Regions from separate parts of the Homo sapiens genome. Here region 1 is linked to region 2. The links come from fine-mapping of genetic effects on gene expression. A gene starts in region 2. The other region holds a variant in brackets. All regions are shown on one strand. Distances are between the middles of the regions.

Region 1 (2,912 bases), 52 kb after region 2:
GCTGAGAACTCATTACCAGACTTACCCTGCAGTATGTTTTGTCTGCTAAATTAAAGCAAATCAAAACAAAACAACAACAAAAAGCCTACCATAACCTGCATGTAGGTTTTTAGCAGTAAGGAACTACCTGTAACAGATGCTTAGACATTGTCATGTGAACAACTTTGTTGTAATAAACATAAACAAGAGTTGCAGTGGGGGAACCACAGGAACTGATTGATCAGACTTTAAGGAGAGCCATTATACCATAAGCATCAGGACTGTTCAGGGAGTGTCTGTTCAGGATGTTGGAAAGCTCAAAGTGTGTGATGGCTGTGGAGGTTCTGAGGCTGCTGCTGCTCCCCAATACCTGATGCCAGGTTTTATAGCAGCTTACGTTTTAGTTAAACAGTGTCTTTCTCTTGATGTCTTTCTTGTTACCTATTTTCCTAAATAATTTTTTTCTTTTTTTTTTTTTAAGGGAATCATTTTGTAGGAGGGGGGAAATAGATTTCAATGTTGAAACAAAACCTTGTGAAGGAGATTTAATGCCTTGTTTAGGAATGTGAGTGGTTATAATTAAACTGATTCAATTCTCAATAAGGTCTTGAGCAGTACTGGCAAGCATAAAAATGGCTTTTGCATGTATTTTATGGAATGTATGTAATTAGCCTTATTTTCTACTTGTGTTCATAAGCCATGTGAATAAACTCAGGTACTACTTATAGAACTTTATTGCTTGAGATCTGACTTTGCAATTGCGATTTTCTCTGTGCTTTTGAATTGAAGAAGAGATTAAGTGGGACCCCTGGAAGTCAGAAACAAGTTAAACATAAGCCTAATCAAAGTCCCAAGATGTTGTGAAAGATGGTTTGTTTCGTTTTAAGGGCAAGGTTGTTGTTTTGTTCTTTTGGGGGCTGTCTGAAGTAGGACTGATGATCTTAGGGCGTCAGTATTCATCGTTCTTGTTTCCTTTCAGTTAGTGTTGGAAATTTATTAATCAGGTTGAGTAAAATATGAATCCTGCCCCAAAGGCTTTCCTACTTAGTGGAAAAGCTGTGATTTATAAAGACACAGTGTAATGAAATAAAGTGATAATGAAAAGCCTTGGGCAGACTGGCTGTGTAATATATTTTAGGCAATTTACACAGGTTGGTTTAATTATTATTATTTTTGTTCTTGTCAGAATTGTCCTTTCTAATAGTAGGATCCCTCAAACTATCCTTGCTGCTGGTGAAAATAGGCTCCAATTTTTTCTTAAAGTCCAAACCATTCCTTTAAAGGCTAACAGATGTTTACTCTCCAGTCAGTGAAAGGTGATATTGAAGTATAGTCTTAATTAGTTACTTTCCTCTTTGCCTTTAAACACCACATTAAGTGCAAGTATATATGCCTCCCTATGGGTTTTTGACCAAAGCACACACCCATACCCCTTCCTGCCTCCCTGGAACTGGTTCAAGATTTGGAGAGAAGAGTTTGCTTGTGGGTGTTTCCCTTGTCTTATCTGTGAGTGAGCATATGCTAGGGTTGAATTTATTTTGAC[G/A]CTTTCATTTTAAATTTGGAACCAAAGTAAGAGTTTAAAGTGCAACAGAAGAGAGTCTGCTGAACTTTAGACATGAGGGATCCAGGGAGGAAGGTGCGTAAATACATCTTGAAGCTTTCTCTAGAGGTTTTCTCGTACAGGTGACCATCTTTACGCATATACATTATTGTAAGCTAATAACTACTACTCAAAGGAATATTTAAAGCTATATGAAAATGTGTGTGGTACTTATATCATGTTTATGTGCTTAATTTTAGTAGCCGTGCCTCTGGTATTTCACACTTTTTACATTAATAGCAGAATAAGTAAATTTTGAATTTTTATTTCAAAGCCTTTTAGGAAAGCTTAGGAGGCTGGGTATTTGCAAGCGGAAAAATGTATCATGTATGATTGATCCTCAAGGGAATGATGAAAAAGTTATATAGGTATTCTAAGCATCTTACCATTTTGTCTTCTATAGCATCAAATAAAGAGACCTATAAATGGTTATTAGGTGAATGTTACCCAGGTTCTCCTCAGTTCAGAAGCAATTCTTTCTTTACTGATTATTATTTATCTTTGTTTATTAATTTTAAGCACAGTTGCTTACATTTGTAGTAGGCTGAACTGTTTTCTTTCCTGACTGATCTTTTCCAGAGCCTGGCCCAACTAGAGAATCTGTGCAAACAGCTGTATGAAACCACAGACACAACCACTCGACTCCAGGCAGAGAAAGCCTTGGTTGAATTTACCAACAGCCCTGATTGCCTGAGCAAGTGCCAGCTACTCCTCGAAAGAGGAAGTGTGCGTAAGATCTGAAAATCCTAAAGGATAACAGGCGCTTCGGAAACGTTATTCTGGTTCTCTGTGTAGGAATGGCATGGGATGGCTTCTGTTCCCTGATTTTTCTAGGTGTCCCTGACTTATTTTCACTTTTAAGAAGTACCATACCTACCAGGTTGGCAAAACAGCCATACAGTCTCATCAAGAAAATCTCTTTGAACATGCATTTCTGTTCTGTAATTTTTCATCCTAAATTTCCAGAACTTGTTTTCTGCTTTTACATTTAAGTGCCACATCCTGTCCTTTCCAGAATAAGATAGGACTGTAGATAAATGACCTTTGTGTTTGTTTATTTATTTATTTTTGAGACGGAGTTTCGCTCTTGTTGCCCAGGCTGGAGTGCAATGGCGTGATCTTGGCTCACTGCAACCTCCACCTCCCGGGTTCAAGTGATTCTCCTGCCTCAGCCTCCCGAGTAGCTGGGATCACAGGCATGCACCACCAAGCTTGGCTAATTTTGTATTTTTTTTAGTAGAGACGGGGTTTCTCCGTGTTGGTCAGGCTGGTCTCGATCTCCTGACCTCAGGTGATCCACCCGCCTCGGCCTCCCAAAGTGATGGGATTACAG
Region 2 (2,912 bases):
AGGAGGTACAGGCGCTCCTTGGTCTCCAGGAAGAAGGCACTGGTGTCCCGGGGGCTGCTGGCCTCTCCGCCGGCCTCGGCCACCCGCAGGCAGTCACTGAGGCGGATGACCTTCCGGGCAGCCTCACACCGACGAGGCTTCTCCGGGCCCTCCTGCAGCTCCAGCCGGGCCAAGGCGCAGTCCGACCCTCCATACAGTGAGGCGCCGAAGCGGCGCCATTTCTGTGCCAGAGGCGTGGGAGGCGGGGGCGGGAGGGAGCCACCCAGAGACGGGGAGATCGTGAGCCAAGGGGAGAAGAGGAACCGTGGGAGGGGGACTGGGGCAGCCACTTGGAGATGGGGAGAGAGAGGTGAAGATCACATGAGACCCAGGGAGGCAGAGAAGAGGACAGTGACTGCAGGAATTAGAAAATCGGAGATCAGCCGCCAGCCCCGAGAAGGAGGCCCACGAGCAAGAGCAGAGACTGCCCAGGCAGAAAGCAACGCCGGGATGAGCCCAAAGCAGGCTGCAAGAAGGCCAAACAGGCCCACCGCAGTGGACTCCAGTCTGGGGAGGAAAGCGGGGCAGTGGCCGAGGCCCAGAGGAGGGAGTGAGGAGGGCGGCGTGTGACCCGGGCTGGAGACCTCATTCTCCTTCTGTGCGAAATCCTGAAGGAGAACTTCTCTCCACCCTCCTGAACCTTGCTGCCTCATTCCTTGATAGGTTGGGCCATGAGAGAGAGACAGGTGTGCCCCCCAGTGTTGGTTAGGGGACGAGGACTTCCTGGTTCAAGGAGGCCAGGGAAGGGGAAAGAGGATGGACAGCCGGCTGGGGTCCAGGCCCCCAGAGGCCCCAGCCCAAGCTGAACACCAGCCACATGCACCCCACTGGGGTTGGGAAGGAACCTCTATTGTCATCCTAAACTGTCCCTCCAGCTGCCCCTTCCATTCCCTTCCAAGGTGTCCGGTGAAAAGAAGTCAACATAGAGCAAGAGAGCAAAAGAGGCAAGAGATGAAAGCAGCACATCCCCCACCCCCACCCAGGGCAAACAGCCCTCAGTAAGGAGCACAGTTTGGGACCTGGTTGGGGCCTGGTTCAGGAGACAGCGTCGGGTAGGAAAAGAGCCCTCCCAAAGTTGAGCTCTGGGTCTAACTTGGTGGGTGCACAGTCAGACCTATAAGGGTTTTGAATATGAAACTCCCTCTCCAACCCAGGAATTCTAGCAGCCTCCCAGGCCCCCTGCCCAACCCCAGCCCAGCCTCACTCCTACCTTTCCAAACGTCTGCTGCTGCTGAAGATACAAGAAGCCTTGTTTCACTGCCCCGTCTCCCATCCTCTGACCATCTCGGAGCCCCAGGCTTCAGCTCTCTCCTTCACTCCTGCCCTTGCCTCTCTCTTCTTAGCCGTGTGTTTCCCTTCTCTGAAGTTCATTTCCTCTCTGCCTAGGGTTTTCTATACTATTCTAGTCTGCTCGATGACGACAGGCTGATAGGCCCTGCGGTTTCTTCTGAGTGTGTGTTCTTTTTTTTCTTTTTTTTTTTTTTTTCTGAGTGAGTTTTATACTCAAGCTTCCTGCATTTCCAGTGAGTTAGAGACAATTTCCAAAAAGCTAAATGCCAGCTCTTCAGTGAGCAACAATTCAGGTACAGAAGTTGGCACAGGGAGGCGCCAGCAAAGAGTGGCTGGCCCACTGGAACAGAGACCCAGAAACCAAACTAGACAGTGAAATCAGTAGTGAAGGCCCCCCCCTCCAAGCTGTACGCAAGTTGGAAGGGACAAACCACTAAGTTACAAATAAGGAAACAGGCTTGGAAAGTCTGAGGGATTTATTCAAGGTCACCAAACCAGAACCCAGGTCTCTCAACGCTTAACAGCTGAATGACACACACGGCACTGCACAGAGAGACACATAAGACAGCTCATGTGGGCCTAACCAGATACCAGTTTCACAAACACACACACACAGAGAGAGAGAGAGAGAGAGAGGCAACCGTTTAACTACATGCGAGCACTCCCTGTCTGCCAACAACACACACTCACACCAACCCTGTAAAGATTCTAGAAAGATGATCATCCCCTCTGGAGAAGGGACTGACTCCCCAAGTACATCTCAACTGTTGGATTTTTGCCTTCTTGCAAGCATTCCTGAGCATTAGAAAGATGCTTAGGTTTCATCTGCAAATTATCTTAAGTTTCAATAGCAATCACTTTCATATACATTTTGAAAATGGTTCAGAGTTACCGAAAGTGCTTCGTAGCTCGCAAAGCTTCTAGGCACACACTTTTCATCAGCCACGCCATCCTTTGACAAAGGCAGGGCAGGTATGAACACACTTATTTGCAACTTGCCTGAGGTCACAGAGGTAGTTGGGGGCAGAGGAAGAAGTAGAGACCAGGGCTCCTGATCTTTAATTCAACATTTTGCAGGGCCCCTAAATGGAATCCAGATCCATGCAAAAAGATCCATTGCTGTGGGGAAATCCAAGCTGCTCAGAGAAGTTTAACTTAAAGCCAGATGGTTTAGAGAAGCAATCTGTATGGAGGCACAGTGCAGAAGGGTTGGAAAAAACTGAGACTCAGACCAACACTCTTGGGGTTAATCCCATAACAGGTGCTTATATAAACAGGCCCATTTCCTCTACAACAGGGGTTCAGTTACCGTGGCAAGGAGCGAGCAGCACCGTGCACAGCTTAGGCCTTCTGCTGTACATGCCATGGACTGGACCAAATAAGCTTGAAAAAAATGAATGTCATGAGCTCTGTGAGGACAAGGATGAGTCACTTCAAACTCACTGCCCTCAGCCGTGATGCCTGGGTTTGAAGAGGTTGATCCAAAGCTCAAGGGAGAACCAAGCATACTGTTTTGGGAAAAGCACACCTTGGGAAGTGGTTAGGGGTATGGAAATGGGATGTGACCTAATCTTCCTCTTTAG

The links.
Region 1: its variant is fine-mapped to the expression of DOK2 in whole blood (TOPMed, PIP 0.90).

The regions. Positions count from the first base shown.
Region 1 is chr8:21,964,699-21,967,610 of GRCh38, forward strand. It overlaps XPO7 (exportin 7), which reads left to right. Exons shown (of 28, transcript NM_015024.5): 2 at 2,159-2,305. Among named protein-coding and RNA genes, the nearest start is that of XPO7, 46 kb to the left of the region's middle. The variant G/A (reference allele first, on the strand shown) is at 1,523.
Region 2 is chr8:21,912,290-21,915,201 of GRCh38, forward strand. It overlaps DOK2 (docking protein 2), which reads right to left and starts at 1,401. Exons shown (of 5, transcript NM_003974.4): 1 at 1,250-1,401; 2 at 1-221. The coding sequence starts at 1,312.